Homo sapiens: one gene and its partners. The protein of the gene in region 1 purifies or fractionates together with the protein of each later gene. This does not show direct contact. Each region holds a gene or a part of one and is shown in the gene's direction. Other genes may lie near its edges.

What was found.
Region 2: the proteins of DNAJC27 (region 1) and LRRC61 purify together in Homo sapiens (affinity purification with mass spectrometry; one large-scale study listed by BioGRID and IntAct). This does not show direct contact.
Region 3: the proteins of DNAJC27 (region 1) and DNMT1 purify together in Homo sapiens (affinity purification with mass spectrometry, with the first as the bait; one large-scale study listed by BioGRID). This does not show direct contact.
Region 4: the proteins of DNAJC27 (region 1) and FAM184B purify together in Homo sapiens (affinity purification with mass spectrometry, with the first as the bait; one large-scale study listed by BioGRID). This does not show direct contact.
Region 5: the proteins of DNAJC27 (region 1) and KLHL36 purify together in Homo sapiens (affinity purification with mass spectrometry; one large-scale study listed by BioGRID and IntAct). This does not show direct contact.

The regions. Positions count from the first base shown.
Region 1 is NC_000002.12:24,965,214-24,969,260, reverse strand, and holds part of DNAJC27 (dnaJ homolog subfamily C member 27), read left to right. Parts: intron 1-23; exon of another isoform or gene 24-378; intron 379-1,967; coding exon 1,968-2,050; intron 2,051-4,047. UniProt on the Homo sapiens protein: GTPase which can activate the MEK/ERK pathway and induce cell transformation when overexpressed. May act as a nuclear scaffold for MAPK1, probably by association with MAPK1 nuclear export signal leading to enhanced ERK1/ERK2 signaling.
Region 2 is NC_000007.14:150,335,721-150,338,918, forward strand, and holds the end of LRRC61 (leucine-rich repeat-containing protein 61), read left to right. Parts: intron 1-997; 5' UTR 998-1,141; coding exon 1,142-1,921; 3' UTR 1,922-2,436; downstream 2,437-3,198. Other genes in the region: RARRES2 (retinoic acid receptor responder protein 2 precursor), read right to left, coding at 2,905-3,021.
Region 3 is NC_000019.10:10,153,058-10,157,104, reverse strand, and holds part of DNMT1 (DNA (cytosine-5)-methyltransferase 1), read left to right. Parts: intron 1-595; coding exon 596-714; intron 715-1,159; coding exon 1,160-1,252; intron 1,253-2,048; coding exon 2,049-2,200; intron 2,201-2,331; coding exon 2,332-2,519; intron 2,520-2,625; coding exon 2,626-2,812; intron 2,813-4,047. UniProt on the Homo sapiens protein: Methylates CpG residues. Preferentially methylates hemimethylated DNA. Associates with DNA replication sites in S phase maintaining the methylation pattern in the newly synthesized strand, that is essential for epigenetic inheritance.
Region 4 is NC_000004.12:17,774,742-17,778,788, reverse strand, and holds part of FAM184B (protein FAM184B), read left to right. Parts: intron 1-4,047.
Region 5 is NC_000016.10:84,665,511-84,668,186, forward strand, and holds the end of KLHL36 (kelch-like protein 36), read left to right. Parts: 3' UTR 1-2,176; downstream 2,177-2,676.

The DNA.
Region 1 (4,047 bases):
GGAAGTTAAAACATGATTCCCTTTTCAAGTTTGGTTCTTGAGAGACTCACATGGTGTTGCTCAAGTACGTTTTGTGACAGGCAATAGCATCTTAAGAATTCTTAAGTCCAAGAAGGGACTTGCTCCTGATCTCCCTGAAGATCTCTACCATTTAATTAAGAAGTAGTTATTGTTCAAAAGCATCTTGAGATGAACAGAAAGGATAAGGATGGTAAATTCTGTCTGATTCTGATAGAGAGGTAGAGTCACCCTTTGGCTCAATATTGTAAGACCAAGCAAATCCTCCCTCCCAGTTGGAAGTGAGTAATCTACAGCCTCTGTCCTGGTCATATAAATTTGTCTATGTACTCAAGCAATAAAATGATTGTTTAATTTAAAAAAAAATTTTTTTTAAGCTACCAAACTTTTCCCATTGGTATTGGGAAGGAAATATGGAGACATCAGTGGAACAGAGTAGAGTCCAGTAATAAACCCAGATACGTAAGGAAATTCAATTTACACAAATGTAGTAAAATTATGGGAAAATAGAGACCATTTAGTAAATATTGTTGTAACAACTGTCTACTATTTGAGAGTAGGTTGGATTCCTATTACATTCCTTTCTCAAAAATAAATTCTAGGCCGGACACAGTGGCTCACGCCTGTAATCTCAGCACTTTGGGAGACCGAGGCGGGCGGTTCACGGGGTCAGATCGAGACCATCCTGGCCAACATGGTGAAACCCCGTCTCTACAAAAAAAATAATAATAATAAATAAATAAATAAATAAATAAATTCTAGATGGATAAAAGATTTAAGTGTAACTTTTAAAAAAACTTATTATTTTGCCTTAGTTGTAAAAGTAACACATACTCATTTTAAAGGATTTGGAAAATATAGGATGATATACAGGTAAAGCATTTTAAAGTTAAAAATTAAGGAATGCCTTAGTAAATAATCATTGACTCAAACAGCAAATTAAAACAAATGACAAAGTAACTAGCAAGCAATGAAATGGAGGGAATATTTGCATATCACAGACTATTGTGTAACCATAAAAAAGTGAGTAGAGCTATTTTAAAGTTAACTTGGGAACCATAATTTATTATTGTTAAGAGAGAAAAGCAAACTCTAGAAGTATGTACAATACTCTGTGAAGTGAGTACTTTTTACTGCAAGTAGGACAAACCCAATTCAATTGATTTAACAGGAAATTTTTTTTCTCTTTTTGAGACAGGGTCTCCCTCTGCCACCCAGGCTGGAGTGCAGTGGCATCATCGTGGCTCACTGCAGCCTCTCCTCCTAGGCTCAAAAAAAAAAAAAAAAAGGAATTAATCTAATAGATATTTAGAGATGTGGATCTGGTCTTGGCAGTGAGGTCAAGGCTAGACAGATATTTTGGTGGTATCGTTGAAAGCATAAGAATAGAAGACATCTTCAGAAGAAAAGAGCACAGGATTGAGAACTCAACTGAAAACATATGCATATTTAGTAATAAGGGAAGAATTTAAAAATAATTTTTCTTAAAATCTTTTAACACTTGTTTCAGTTATTTTATAGTTTTGTCTTTTTTTTTTTTTTAGACAAGCGTTCACTCTTACCACCCAGGCTGGAGTGCAATGGCAGCAATCTCAGCTCACTGCAACCTCCGCCTCCCGGGTTTACACAATTCTCCTGCCTCAGCTTCCCGAGTAGCTGGGATTACAGATGCCTGCCACCATGCCCGGCTGATTTTTGTATTTTTGTAGAGACGGGGTTTCGCCATGTTGGCCAGGCTAATCTTGAACTCCTGACCTCAGGTGATCCACCCGCCTTGGCCTCTGAAAGTGCTGAGATGACAGGCGTGAGCCACCGCGCCCCGCCACTTTTGTCTTTTGAAAATGCTTTTTCATAGTGATGAATGGAGGAACCATAATGAAGAAATATACTTATTCTGTATGTGTTCTCACTATGTATTTACTAAATGCCTGTATTTTTTACCTTTTTAGAGCTGTATTATAAAGCGATACTGTGAGAAAAGATTCGTGTCTAAATACCTGGCAACAATTGGAATTGACTATGGAGTCACAAAGTAAGTATATTGTTTCCCTGGGTTTGTAAGTTACATAGAAGTTCAGAACTTTCCAAAATGATCCATATTTGCATCAGTGCTCTTGTGTAGGTAATCTTGAAATGGAGACTTTGAAGATAAGTTGGGAAAGATAGGAATAGTAGACCTTTACAGGTATCTAGTGATCATATCATTCATTCAGCCTGTGTATTGGTATTGAGCACATCCCATTCACCAGGCCTCGTGTTAGGTGTAGGCTACAGCAATGAACATGTCAACACAAAGCCTAAATGGCAGGTGTAACTTTCCAGGAAACATGTTTTTATATTAGCAGGTCCTTCCAGCAGGTGTGTTTTTAGAGCATTTTGAAATATTCTCTCTAAAAAGTCTATAAATATTGTGTGGAACATTTTCTACCAGAGAAGTTTTTTTATTGGTTTATGATCTTCATAGCTATTAGAATCCAGCAAAAATGGGCCAGATGCAGTGGCTTATACCTGTAATCCCAGCACGTTGGGAGGCCGAGACGGGCGGATAACGAGGTCAGGAGTTCAAGACCAGCCTGACCAACACAGTGAAACCCTGTCTCTAAGAAAAATGCAAAAATTAGCCGGGTGTGGTGGCACACACCTGTAGTCCCAGCTACTCAGGATGCTGAGGCAGGAGAATCACTTGAACCCGGGAGGCAGAGGTTGCAGTGAGCTGAGACTGTGCCATTGCACTCCAGCCTGGGCGACAGTGAGACTTCATCACAAAAAAAGAAAAAAAAAATGAATTGGGAAAAGTAAAGTTGGGTCCAATTGGGGATTTATCTGGAGATGAGTCAGGAGGGGGTTGAGCTTGAAGAGTTGGATATAATTAGCAGGAAATACCCATACAGTAGAATTGGGGTAGATAGCATACTCCTTAAACATGAAATTTCAGGTGTTCACTATCTTGGCCCCACTCTGGCCTTTCCCCTTTTGTCTTTTCTGTTACACACTTTACTTTCCATCCATGCTGAACTGCTACCCTCAGACTTTCTACCTCAGCACCATTATCCAGCCTGTCCACTTGGAACAGCCCTGCCCATTTCTCCAAGATATAAACATTCTCCTGTTCCCGTAAGGTCTTCTAAACATGCCCTTTATTGGTCAGGACTCTTTTTGGTTGCAAATGACAGAAATCCTAAAGTTGTCTATGGTATTTATGGTACTTACCAAAAATTGCCTTGTATTGTTATTATTTGTATATGTGTAATGTCTCCTGCTAGATTATAAACTCCCTGAAAATTTATTAGTATAAATTTTCTCCAAGTGCCTGGCATAGTGCTTATACCTAATAGGTACTCAATAAATATTTATTGTTAGGTAAGATAGGTACATCTAAAGAGGAAGTTTGCCAGATTAGACTATGAGGGCAATATTTAAGAAGGTAGACTAAAGTTTTGACATATAGCTAGCAGAATGTCGATTAGGTGAAGAGTGGAGTCAAGTTCAGATGTATCCTTCATGGCTTTTTAAAGTGGCCCCAGTAAATGGTAGAGTAAAACTCAAGAGTTGTGTGTAATGCTCTTACAGCACCATTTTTCAACTGACAGCAGCAGAGGGTATTTCTGCAAATTTTCTTTAAAGAATGAAAATTGTAGCTCTTGGCAGTGAAATGTATGAAGCTCTTCATTTGAAATTCACATTTCTGGCTTGGCACGGTGGCTCATGCCTGTAATCCTAGCACTTTGGGAGGCCAAGGCAGGCAGATCACCTGAGGCCAGGAGTTTGAGACCAGCCTGGCCAACATGGTGAAACCCTATCTCTACTAAAAATACAAAAATTAGCCGGACGTGGTGGCAGTTGCCTATAATCCCAACTACTTGGGAGGCTGAGGTGGGAGAATCACTTGAACCCCGGAGGCGGAGGTTGCAGTGAGCCAAGATTATGCCACTGCACTCCAGCCTGGGCAACAGAGTGAGACTCCTCAAAAATAAATAAAAATAAAAATGAAATTCACATTCTTTTTTTTTTCTTTTCCCTGAGACAGAG
Region 2 (3,198 bases), on another chromosome or scaffold:
GTTGGGAAAGCTGCGCTTGGAAGAGGTCTGTTATTTTCCTCACTGCTTAAATCTTGAGGTCCCTCCACCAGGCCACCCCTGCTTTGTGCCACAGTCATGCGCTGGCACCTGGACTCACCTGGTCCTGCAGCCCCTGGCAATTTGATGTGCCCCTCCCGGCTTTCTGGAGCCACCCTTCCCTCCCTCCAAGACAGCCTGCCCTTTGGGAAATTTATGTTGTCTTTGCAGCTGGCACCGTGCTGTCTGGCACGTATATCAGTGCTGTTCCATTGATCTGTCCAGCTGAGTCCAGAGCAAAAGAGCTAGCTTTGGCGGGCAGTGAAGTGAGAGCAAGGGTGTGCGACCTAGCCAGGCCACTTACCCCAGCCTTCCCTGTCCCTTCACTACCTTGACCTCAGTTTTCTCCTTCAGGACTAAAGGCCAACTTCTTATGCTCTACAGCTCCAACCAGAGGTACCAGCTGACCCATATAATCTGGAAACAAGTTTGAATTCATTGCTGTTAGAAAGAATTGCAGTAATACTGAGTGAATCAAACAAGGCACATGTGCTCTCGTTTGCATTGCATATACATTGATTATCCCAGAAAGAAAACAAAAGAAACTGGTGATGGTGGTTACCTATTGCCTATTCAAAAATAACGGTTTAAAAAACACCCCAAAACTAATAGGGATGGATCGTGAGTGGTTACGGAAAAAGTAAAATAATGTTTTGCCCCTAGTTTGGATTTGACAGGAAGAACTGGTAATATTGGGCCTGAATCCATCCAGCATGGCCCTAACCAGCCAGGGCCAGTCTGGGCTGCTCCCCTTGGGTTGGGCCTGCACCCCATCCCTGTCACTCAGATGGCTTTTGTGGCCTGTGTCCCAGCTTGGTCTTCAGGTCTTGCCTGGCTGAGATTGTTGGTTTTCATGGTAAAAGCAGGGTCAGACTCCCTGCCGTCACCTGCTGCGTAAGACACAGAAAGTGCTGCCTGCTGACTGACTGTCTCTCCTCAGGGACTGGCTGGCTTCGAGCAGGGCATCGGAACCAGGCCTCCTGGCACTGGCCTGGGTAGAGCCAGGGCGAGCACCAGCTGACCCCCAGTGGAACCCTGTGACAGTCCTGCCAGGGCCCAGGCCATCCCAACCGACTTCCATCTCATGGACCCTCCAGCGGAGAAGCCGGGAGAGGCTGGCGGACTGCAGATCACACCCCAGCTGCTGAAGTCACGCACAGGCGAGTTCTCCCTGGAGTCCATCCTGCTACTGAAGCTGCGTGGCTTGGGACTGGCTGACCTGGGCTGCCTGGGAGAGTGCCTGGGCCTGGAGTGGCTGGACCTATCAGGCAACGCGCTCACCCACCTGGGCCCGCTGGCCTCCTTGCGCCAGCTAGCTGTGCTCAATGTCTCCAACAATCGGCTGACGGGCCTGGAGCCACTGGCCACCTGTGAGAACTTGCAGAGTCTCAATGCCGCAGGCAACCTACTGGCCACCCCGGGCCAGCTGCAGTGTCTGGCTGGGCTACCGTGCCTGGAGTACCTGCGGCTCCGAGACCCTTTGGCCCGGCTCAGCAACCCGCTCTGTGCCAACCCCTCCTACTGGGCTGCAGTCCGGGAGCTGCTGCCTGGCCTGAAAGTCATCGACGGTGAGCGTGTGATTGGGCGTGGTAGTGAGTTCTACCAGCTGTGCCGAGACCTGGACAGCTCCTTGCGTCCCAGCTCCAGTCCAGGCCCCAGAGCCACCGAGGCCCAGCCCTGGGTGGAGCCAGGCTACTGGGAGTCCTGGCCCAGCCGGAGCAGCTCCATCCTGGAGGAGGCCTGCCGGCAGTTCCAGGACACACTGCAGGAGTGCTGGGACCTGGACCGCCAGGCCAGCGACAGCCTGGCCCAGGCGGAGCAGGTACTCAGCTCTGCGGGCCCCACCTCTTCCTTCGTCTTCTGAACGTGGCCTATGGCCCAGGACAGCCTGGCAGGTGGCCTCGCTGCCCCCAGTTCCCCTCTCTGCCCCCACACTCGTCTTAGTTGCTTCACACTGGTCACTGGCCCTGCACACTGGGCTATTGCTTTATCCCTATCCTGAGAGCAGCCCCTCCCCACCATCCCTCCACATGCTGCAAGGACAGACTGAAGGGCTGTGAGCAGGTGTAAGGGCTCCCACATCCGTGAGCCTGTGTCCGCAGCTGCTGCCACTCTGGGCTGCTCCAGCCTGCAACTTAGTGGAAGGAATTACTTCCTCCTGAGGCTACAGGCGAGAAAGGTAGGGATGGGCCAGCCTCCCGTCTCAGCTGTTGGGAGACAGTAGGCAGGCTGAGTGGCCCAGAGCACTCCTGGAAGTGGGACTCCCCTGCCTTGCAAATGTGCCTCTCCAGACTGCTCCTGCACTTACCCCCTCCCCGCAGCACCTTCTCTGCCCGTTCTTGTCCACACATCTATTAAATGCTTCTGTTTTCATTTGCATCCCTGCCTGGCATTTCATGGGGGCACCTCTGGCTCTGGAGCACAGGAGGCTCTGCTCACCCTGCCCACAGGAAGGGGTCCCAGAGGAAGGGTCCTGTCCCCCTGCCCTCTCTGGCCGCCTCTGAGCTACGCTAAGGAGGAAGTCGTGCAACACAAGGAGCTGAGAGGCAGCTGGGAGAGCAGCTTTATTATCATGGCTGGGGATAGAACGGGTTCCTCTCCCTGGGGGCTGGGGTCTTCCACTGGTTACCACCCGCAGCGGTCCTGGAGGCACCACGCATCTCTAGACAAAAGGGGAAACAGGTTTGGGGGTGAGGGAGGTTGCTTCAGCCCCAGTCCCAGCTTTCCTCCCAGGCTTCTGACCTGTCCCCTCCCAGGCTCCCAAAGCCCAGCCCAGCCCCTCAGCATTCCCAGGGCTGGCCTCATCCAGACGGTGCTCTCAGCCCCCTGGTGCCTACCAGTGCTGGCTTAGCTGCGGGGCAGGGCCTTGGAGAAGGCGAACTGTCCAGGGAAGTAGAAGCTGTGGGGGTCCTCACCAGCCCGCTGCACCCTGAGGCACTGGGTCTCCTGGTGCTCCTCAGCCTCCTGCCAGTGCCCAAAACTGTTCAGGCAGTGTAGGAGGGGTGGGCAGTGCCAGTGGAGGGCTGCCAGCATCCTCCACATCCCCTCCACATCCCTTGGAGAATGTCCAAACAGGCACAGCGCTTTCTAGCCCCCACTGCCCTCCCTCCTGCTTGGCCAAGCTTTAGCCTCGAGACCAGC
Region 3 (4,047 bases), on another chromosome or scaffold:
GCTGCACTGCATAGTAGAAGGTGTTCTAGAAACCGGTATTTCCCGCACTGTAAGTCTGACTGATCTTTTGGTGTTGCTGTTGCAGACACACATACACTTGATGCTTAGGTGGGAGAATAAGGTAGAAACTCTGGGTGATAGAACGCTGTCTTAATCCAGTGTTCCCGCAACCAAAAAATGAGTGTCGGGGCCAGGCATGGTGGTTCAGCCTGTAATCCCAGCACTTTGGGAGGCTGAGGTGGGTAGATCACTGGAGATAAAGAGTTTGAGACCAGCCTGCTACACATAGTGAAACCCCGTCCCTACTAAAAATACAACAATTAGCCGGGCATGGTGGTTCAGGCCTGTAATCCCAGCTACTCGGGAGGCTGAGGCAGGAGAATTACTTGAACCCGGGAGGTGGAGGCTGCAGTGAGCCAAGATTATGCCATCGCGCTCCAGCCTGAGGGATAGAGCAAGACTCTGTCTCAAAAACAAACAAAAAAAGAGTGTCAGACTTGTACATTCTCTCATTGCCTCGTGCCTGATCTGAAGTCTGCACGAAGACCCGCCTTCACGGCTTAGCTGGTAAGCATGTGCTTTGTTTCCTGTCTAGTGTGTACTGTAAGCACGGTCACCTGTGTCCCATCGACACCGGCCTCATCGAGAAGAATATCGAACTCTTCTTTTCTGGTTCAGCAAAACCAATCTATGATGATGACCCATCTCTTGAAGGTAAGGAATAGTCCGGGATTATGTTTGGGGCACACTTTAAAAACAGCCAGGCAGGGTGGCTCACATCTGTAATCCTAGCACTTTGGGGGTCTGAGGCCAGAGGATCACTTGAGCCCGGGAGTTTGAGACGAGCCTGGACAACATAGCAAGAGCCTGCCTCTATTAAAAAAAAATATATAGCATATATATATAGTATACATATATACTTATATATATGTATAAATAAAAAACATACTTATGAAGCAATAGTCAGCTGGAGTTGCTGCTGCCTCTTAAAGTTAGGGTGTGAGACTTTGTGCCAGGAGCAGCTGTAGGCCAAGTCATTGTGATGACTGAGGAGCACCCGACCTGGCTGATGGGATGTCTGCTGAGTGGGCGCTTAGAGCGCCTCCTGGGTTTGGGATGTGAGTCAGAGCCTTTAGTCCATTTCCTTTTTCTGCTCTAGGTGGTGTTAATGGCAAAAATCTTGGCCCCATAAATGAATGGTGGATCACTGGCTTTGATGGAGGTGAAAAGGCCCTCATCGGCTTCAGCACCTGTAAGTGTGTGGCCCATCATAGGCTGGCCGGGGTCTGAAAGGGGCCTTCATGTTCTCCTTCCTGGGGGCTGACGGGGCTCTGGTGGGAATTCTCAGCAGGCTTGCAGAAGGCCATGTGACTGGGAACCTTAGCAGGTTCAGTTGGGGTAGCCTCTTGTGTTAGTTATGACTGGCTCTGGAACTGACTCTCCAGTTGTAAGAGCAGGTCTTGGCCGGATATGGTGGCTCACACCTGTAATCCCAGCACTTTGGGAGGCCGAGTTGGGGGGATCATTTGAGGCCAGGAATTCGAGACCAGCCTAGCCTGGCCAACATGGTGAAACCCCCTCTCTACCAAAAATACAAAAATTAGCCACGCATGGTGGTGCATACCTGTAATCCCAGCTACTTGGGAGGCTATGGCAGGAGAATCACGTGAACCCAGCAGACAGAGGTTGCAGTGAGCCGAGATCACGCCACTGCCCTCCAGCCTGGGTGACGGAGCAAGACTCTGTCCTCCCCTGAAAAAAAAAAAAGAGCAGGTCTTATTCTTGCAACCCAAACCCAGACTGAATTCCAAACACCAGAGATGAGCTCAATGAAGGCCTACTCAGCTAGTCTTCGCTCTCTGGCTGGCTCAGACAGGCTTCTTCAGAACAAGCCAGCTATGATGTGTTGTGCCCTATGTTTCTGACATTTGGGTACGGGATGACTTTTAGACTGTTGGGTGAGTTTGGTAGACTCCTCCATGCCCTGTGGCCACTGTAGGCGCCATCAGATTCCAGCCCCTTTTCCACACCTCCTCTGTTCACCCCAGCATTTGCCGAATACATTCTGATGGATCCCAGTCCCGAGTATGCGCCCATATTTGGGCTGATGCAGGAGAAGATCTACATCAGCAAGATTGTGGTGGAGTTCCTGCAGAGCAATTCCGACTCGACCTATGAGGACCTGATCAACAAGATCGAGGTAAGAGATCGAGGGTCCTCAGCATCCGGGATTCCCACTGGAAACTTGCCTTCAGAACCAGCAGACACTGTTCTTCAGTTGGATTTAGGCCAGTTTGGCTTAAGCATGAGAGAAACCTGTTCTCTTTCAAGACCACGGTTCCTCCTTCTGGCCTCAACTTGAACCGCTTCACAGAGGACTCCCTCCTGCGACACGCGCAGTTTGTGGTGGAGCAGGTGGAGAGTTATGACGAGGCCGGGGACAGTGATGAGCAGCCCATCTTCCTGACACCCTGCATGCGGGACCTGATCAAGCTGGCTGGGGTCACGCTGGGACAGAGGTAAGGATGCGGCAGGGACCAGAGTGAAGACTGGAGACCGGGGAGGGTAGAGCATGGCCCACATCCTCTGTCCCAGTCCTCTGAGATGCTGGAACCTCTCCCGTAGGCGAGCCCAGGCGAGGCGGCAGACCATCAGGCATTCTACCAGGGAGAAGGACAGGGGACCCACGAAAGCCACCACCACCAAGCTGGTCTACCAGATCTTCGATACTTTCTTCGCAGAGCAAATTGAAAAGGATGACAGAGAAGACAAGGAGAACGCCTTTAAGCGCCGGCGATGTGGCGTCTGTGAGGTAACCTCACCTGTGGGTGCTCCCGCTCCCCTAAGGTGGCCCAGCCTCTGGCCTGATCTGAGGACTGCTCCATCTTTCTCTCTGTGGCTTGAGACTCTGGCTGCTCAAATGTGACCCCTGAGACAGAAATTAGTTAGTGGTCTGGGAGGACCCTGCATACTTCATTGAACGTCAATAGGACAGATGTCCACAGAGGCATGCTTGGGTGCTTTGCTGATAATGCCACTGTCCTTAATTGAAGAGCCTGGCTTCTGGGTGGCTCTGCTGTGCCTGCATCTCACAGTCTGAAGGCCCCTGTTGGACTGCTAAAGGGGTATTCACATCTAAGTGGGCACTTTGTCCAGCTTAGATTTGAGGCCCTCAGGAGGCGTCCCTTTCTGTGAGTTTTTAAAATATATGTTTACTTCACTCAGGAGGAACTAACTTCCTAGTCCTATGACCCAAAGACCAGGACTATTTTGATACCTATTACCTGACTTTCTTTTGGATAAAGACTGGCTTCAGGGCTTTGCTTTTGATCCCCGCTGGCATCTCTTAACAGGAGCCTGCATGTCCTCACCATTGTTATTTTGGTTTTATTTTATTTTTCTTGGTTAACACACGTGTGTCCAATGTTTTATAACTTCTAAAATCTTTTTTTTTTTTTTTTAATTTTTTTGAGACAGTCTCTCTCTGTCACCCAGGCTAGAGTGCAGTGGCACCATCTCAGCTCACCGTAACCTCCGCCTCCCGGGTTCAATCAGTTCTCCCACCTCAGCCTCCCGAGTGGCTGGGATTATAGGCACCCGCCACCATACCCGGCTAATTTTTTTTGTATTTTTAGTAGAGATGGGGTTTCACCATGTTGGCCAGGCTGGTCTTAAACTCCTGACCTTAAGTGATCTACCTACCTCGGCCTCCCAAAGTGCTGGGATTACAGGTGTGAGCCACTGTGCCCAGCCCTAAAATCATTTGTTTTTATTTGTGTAACTGTTACGTGTTGATACTGGTAGATCTAGTTATTTCATTTTAAATATTCTGTAGTATTTTGTTAAATGAATATCCTAACTTACTCCTCAATGATAGGCACCTCTTCAGTATTGTAAATATGTGGCAGCATCCTTGAGCAAAGCTTCTCGCGAGTGTATCTGCTTAGAAGTAGCGTTGCTGGGTTGTGGGTGTGTATTCTTAACTTTGATCTAGAAGATTGCTCTCCAAAATGGTTCTACCAACTTACCATTTGAGCAGTGTGCGTT
Region 4 (4,047 bases), on another chromosome or scaffold:
CTCCTGGCCTCAAGCAATCCTCCCACCTCAGACTCCCAAGTAGCTAGGAACAGGTCCACACCACCACCCCCAGCTAATATTTTCTTTTTCAAAAATTTTTTGTAGAAATAGAGTCTCACCATGTTGCCCAAGCTGGTCTCGAACTCCTGGCTTCAAGCAATCCTCCCGCCTCAACCTTCCAAAGCTCAGGCATGTGCCACCGCATTCAATCTGTTTTTACTTCTTAAATTTAAAAATAGTTTTTATAGTTAAAAGTTAATTAAATTTATGACATTTTATCAATTTTTCTGCTATTTCTTTTTCTTGAATCTACAGTGTTCCCTTTGGGTTCACTTTTCTTCTGGCTGAAGTCCATCCTTTAATAGTTCTTTCTGTAGGTGCCTTGGTATGGGAGGGAATTCATTGTTGGAAATGTCTTAATTTTGCCCTCACTGTTGTATGATGATTTATTTGGATATAAAATTCTAGTGAACAGTTATTTTCCCACACCACACTGATGATAGTACTCCACTGTCTTCTGGTACTAAGTGTTGCTGGTTAAAAATTCTACTGCCAATCTAATTTTCATTCCCTTATAAATAAGCTGCCTTTTCTCTTTGATAACATTTCAGATTTGTTTTGTTTATTTTTACTGTCCAGCAGGTTTTCTAGAACTGTCTTGGTGTTAGTTTATCTTTATCCTCTGCAAAAGGAGGAGGTACTTTTTTTTTTTTTCTTTGAGACAGTGTCTCACTACGTCACCCAGGTTGGAGTGCAGTGGTGTGATCAAAGCTCACTACAACCTTGACCTCCCATACTCAAGCTGGACTACAAGCATGAGCCACCATGCCCAGCTAATTTTTAAAAAATTTTTTGTAGAGACAGGGTCTCACTATGTTGCCCAGGCTGATCTCAGACTCCTGAGCTCAAGCAATCCTCCCGCCTTGGCTTCCCAAAGTGCTGGGATTACAGGGGTGCATATGCTTTCTTTAATTCTGGAAAATTATTACTGATTTTCTCTTGCAATATTGCTTCCTAGCCATTACCTCCATTATCTTTTCTGGCACTACCATTAGGTAAGTGAGGAAGCCTCACTATCTATATCCTGAGATGTTATTTTTTTAAAAAAAGATTTTGTCTTTGTGTTGCATCCTGGTGAATTCCTTGCCTTCCAATTTGCCAGTCTTCTAAATAATTTGTCCAATCCAGAGTTTTTCCCATCTATTAAGTTTTTTGAATTTCAATAATTATATTTTTTATTTCTAAGATTGTGCTTCCTATTTTCTTTCTGCCTAATTTTGATTAACAGTTTTTTTAATATTTACAGCTTTATTGAGGTATAATTTACATACCATAAAATTCACCTGTTTTAATTGTTCAGTTCAACATTGTTTTAGTCATTAAGCCATAACCATAATCCAGTTTTAGGGACATTTTCATCACCCCAAAGAAATCTTCCCTTGTGGCCATTTGTAGTCAGTTTCTGTTCCCACCAACAGCCCCAGGCAACCATTCATCTACTTCCTATCTCTTTAAATTATCTCTAAATGAAACCATATAATAAATTATTCTTTCCATCTAATTCTTTAAGATTCATCCACATTGTAACACATATCATTAATTCGTTCCTTTTTATTACTTATTTATCCTGTTCTATGGGTATGCTGTGTTTTATTTATCCATTCACCAGCTGATGGACATTTGAGTTTCTACTTTTTGGCTTTTATGAATAATGCTGCTATGAAGATTACATTCACGTGCAAGTCTTTATGTGTTCTTGGGTAGATACCTAGGAGCAGAATTCTTAAGTTGTATGATAACTTTTACTTCTTTAAGAAATTGCCAAATTGTTTTGCGAAGTGACTGTACCACCATACATTATCCAGCCTACTTCAGCACAATCTCCTAGTACATCCCTACGCACCCAATTCTCAGGTCACAGGGAAGTACGATTCTTTCCTTACTCCACTGTGCACTCACCTAGCTTTCCTCTTGAAGTTTCCTCACCTGAAATGTCTTCCTCTCTAAAAGTAAAATCTGCTTATCTTTTGAGTCCCACCTCCTCTAAAAAAAAAACCTTTTAAAAACCTTACTTTTCTGATTAAGACTGTGTTAACTGGCCGGGCACAGTGGCTCACGCCTGTAATCCCAGCACTTTGGGAGGCCGAGTCAGGTGGATCACCTGAGGTCGGGAGTTTGAGACCAGCCTGACCAACATGGAGAAACCCCATCTCTACTAAAAATACGAAAAGAATTAGCTGGGCATGGTGGTGCATACCTGTAATCCCAGCTACTCGGCAGGCTGAGGCAGGAGAATCGCTTGAACCCGAGAGGCGGAGGTTGCAGTTGGCTGAGATCGTGCCATTGCACTCCAGCCTGGGCAACAAGAGTGAAACTCCATTCCAAAAAAAAATTGTTAATTAATTTTTAACTGTGTATTAATTACATTTACTTATCCATCCATTTCTCCAGCAGTTTGTACAAAGTCTGACACATAGTAGATCCTCAGTAAACTTGTTCAATTTAATTATAGTTTCCTCCTATAGGTTTGTTAATATTTCTTTCATGATACTTATCCCTATGATATTATAGTTGACTTGTGGATAGTATGTCCTTAAAGTAATAAGCTCCTTAATTTTATTCATAATACTTTACACCTGGTAGGCACTCACTATGTGGTAGTGTAGTAAATATTTATTTACACAATGACCCAAGGCCCAAGGTGCCCATTAAAATCACCTACAGAGCCCTTATTTATTTGTTTACTATATCAATGTATCCAAAAGATTCTAAAATACGTATTTATTTTTAATTTATATAGATTTAGGGGGTACAAATGTGCTTTTTACATGGATACAATACGTGGTAGTGAAGTCTGGACTTTTAGTGCAACCATCACACGAATAGGATACATTGTACCCAGGAGCTATTTATGATCCCTCATCCGCCCTGCAGCCTCCCACCCTTGGAGTCTCCAGTGTCTATTATTCCACATTCTGTGTTCCTGTGTACACATTATTTAGTTCCCACTTGCAAGTGAGAACATGTGATATTTGACTTTCTCTTCCTGAGTTATTTAACTTAAGATAATAGCCTCCACTCAGAGAGCTTTTAAAAACACACCAGTTGAAGACTTGACAACTAAATGCAGTGCCTGTCCTAGATTGGATTCTATACCGACCAGAAAAATTGCTACAAGAGATGATTGGGTCAGTTGACAAAACTGGAATACAAATGTTGGGTAAAGAAGATAAAAGTGTTTCTATTGATGTTAAGTTTACTGGAGTTGACTGTACTATGGCTATGCAAGAAAATTTCCTATTCTAGCTGGGCTCAGTGGCTCATGCCTGTAATCCCAGCAGTTTGGGAGGCCGAGGCGGGCAGATCACGAGGTCAGGAGACGGAGACCATCCTGGCTAACATGGTGAAACCCTGACTCTACTAAAAATACAAAAAATTAGCTGGGTGTGGTGGCACGCACCGGTAGTCCCAGCTACTCGGGAGGCTGAGGCAGGAGAATCGATTGAACCCAAGAGGCAGAAGTTGCAGTGAGCCAAGACAGCACCACTACACTCCAGCCTGGGCAACAGAGCAAGACTCCATTTCAAAAATAAAATTAAATTAAATTAAAATTAAAATACAAAAATTAGCTGGGCATGGTGGTGCACACCTGTAGTCCCAGCTACCCAGGAGGCTGAGGCAGGAGAATCACTTGAACCCGGGAGGCGGAGGTTGCAGTGAGCTGAGATCATACCACTGCACTCCAGCCTGGTGACAGAGCAAGACTCCATCTCAAAAAAAAAAAAAAAAAAAAAAAGAAAAGGAAAATATCTTATTCTTAGGAAATGCACATCGAAGCTGATCTTACGTTTAAGGAAGTATGATGCCTTACTCTCAAAGCATTTCATTTCATCATATAGAAAACAGAATATGGAAATAGAATAAAAGATACATGAGACAAAATGGGGTAAAATAGGCGATTCTGAGTAAAAGAGTATGTGGATGTTCTTTGTACTGTTCTTTTTCTGTCGGTTATTCCCTAAGTTTGAGATTATAGTCAAAGTTTAA
Region 5 (2,676 bases), on another chromosome or scaffold:
TGGTTAGCACGCAATTGGTATTTTTATTGTTCTGCCATTTTATTGAGGCTATCAAGTGGGACTTCAGACCTGGCTCTGAGCAGGACCACACGTGTGTATTTATATTGAGTGCCCTCACTCATGATAAGGTGACTTCATGGAGACCCAGAAACTCACCCTAAGGGGTGTTCACCTTTGAGGTGGGCATCCAGATGCTGAGGGGAAGTGGGGTCCATCCTCTGAGGTCCAGGGGCCTACTTTGTGAGCTCAGTTGTGTTCACCTGTGGTTCAGTGTACCTCGGCCCCTAAGCCAAGTGATCGTTCAGTGACTTGCAGCAATGTGGGAAGTGAGGGGACCCCTGCCACACCCCCCACCACCCCCTGTAGAGTCACTGACCTTCATCCTTCACCCTGGTCCTCCATGGTGCAGCAGCATCTCATGGGCCTTGTGGCTGTCAGAGCCCGTGGTTGGAACCCCGTCCACTGGTCCCAAACCTGGAGGGGCAGCTGCAGATGAGGTTTAGACCTCCTGGTGTCTCCGTGGATTCTGAGTGCCCAGGAGGGGAGGGGAGGGGGTGGCATCCTGGCCTCTAGGATAAATGCCTGGAGTATAGGGCAGCGCCACGGGCACTTGGAGACCCTGTCCTGCGCATCTGCCAAGCCTGGCAGTTTTTAGAGTTTTTTGAAATGTTTTGATACTTTTTGATACAATTTGCTAATAACTGTTTTGTAGAATGCCTGCCGGGGTTTTCCACCTCATCCCTTTCCTCCGGCCCCTTGATTTGTGCTGGACAACAAATGGCAGCACCAGGACCTCGCCTCATGTGGCTTTGTCTTGGATCTTGCCCTTCTCCATCGCTGATGTGATACAGCTCTAGAATTTCGTGAAGTTGCATGCAAAGTTGCATGCAGCCCGTGGGTATGACTGTCTCAGGCCCCCAGCTCATTTGCCAAGAGGAAACCTTAACCCCCCTGAGAGGGTCTGCGTTTCTTCTAGAGCTCCTACCTCAGTGGTGTGCACAGAGTTGGAGACACCTGAGGGCTGGTCCACGTCTCACCTTTGCCATACGGGTCATTTCTTGATCAAATATATGACTGGGGTCCTGGTTTACTCCCGCCCACCCTTTCTTTTAAAGTATTCTTAACATGAAATCCACAAAAGCGGAAACAATGAACCATTCTTGCACTTTACAGAATCATTGTCCTTAGCTTTAGAGGTTGTTAATTTCTTGTTTTTAACATGAACAGAATGTGTGGTTCTGAAGGTGTGTGGGGGTCTCAAGAAATTGTCCTTTGGGGCCGGGCGCAGTGGCTCACGCCTGTACTCCCAGCACTCTGGGAGGCCAAGGGGGACGGATCACCTGAGGTCAAGAGTTTGAGACCACCCTGACCAACATGGTGAAACCCCGTCTCTACTAAAATACAAAAATTAGGCAGTCGTGGTCGCCTGTAATCTCAGCTCTTCCGGAGGCTGAGGCAGGAGAATCGCTTGAACCCAGGAGGCAGAGGTTGCAGTGAGCCGAGGTTGCGCCACTGCACTCCAGCCTGGGTGACCGAGTAAGACTGTCTCAAAAAAAAAAAAAAAAAAGAAAAGAAATTGTCCTTTGGTTGCCTTAGTTACCAGAGTTGAATGAATGTACACATTTCGGTAGTGGGGGGGCAGAGCGGATAACCCCTTCCTTGTCTGTTTCCTTTGAGAAAGGACACTCCACCTTTTCAAAGGTACTTAAAGCCATCTTTACAGATTGCTTGTAATGTAAGGAAAGAGTCATGTCCTTTGGATTGATTGAGGTTAAATCATCAACCACTAGCCCCCTTTCAAAATCAGCGAGATATTTGATGATTAAGTGATTCATTGGGTATGTTCTGGCTACTGATGTTACTGAAATCTGCAATCGTGTATGTTTTTTAATTTGTTGCTTTTGTATTTGTAATTTTATGACATTTCGAAGTTTCTGTGTCTTAACTCTTTTTAATTAATTTTCTGCACGTTGCTTTTTTCTCTTTGTTTTTAATTCCATACAGAGTATTCAATTCTTGAAACACATTAAAATAATTTGCTTGCTAGGGTATGGTTTATTTTATAATTACATTCCTAGTCTTGTGTGGTTATTGTAATGATGTCTGGTCCTAATTTCTCTGCCCGTATGAAAAAGAACCCCTTGCCTGTTGATCCTAAATATAATTTGGAAATTAACCAGACTTCCTTTTGGTGTTGTGGGGAGGCTGGGACATTTCAATTCTGCTTTCATTGTGTTTCTAATTACTGTATTTTGCCAGGAATTTCATTCAGTTCCTTGATTGCAGGGCTAAGTCCCCGTGACCTGAAATGAAACTATTTGCTTAAATGTGTGTCAACTGGGGTAATTTGATTAGAAAAGAAACACAGAAACCAAGGGAAACAGCTTATGACAAGCAGTGTGCTATCTTTATCAGAAAAAATGCAATCACAATACTCTAAGAACCAGCTCTGTTTTCCTTCGGGCGCTCCCCTGCCTTGCTGGGGTTTTGCAAGGCCACCAGCAGAGAAGCCCAGGCACGGTTGTGCACCCTTTCCTTGTCCCTTCGGCAGGTCAGCATCGGGAGGGTTGGGGAGGGGTGTCTGCGCAGCCATCATACCTGATAAGGTGGTTAGAATTTGCCTCTGAGCCAGTGAGCCCCAAACGGGACCCGCTGCCCGGTGCCGACTTCCTCACC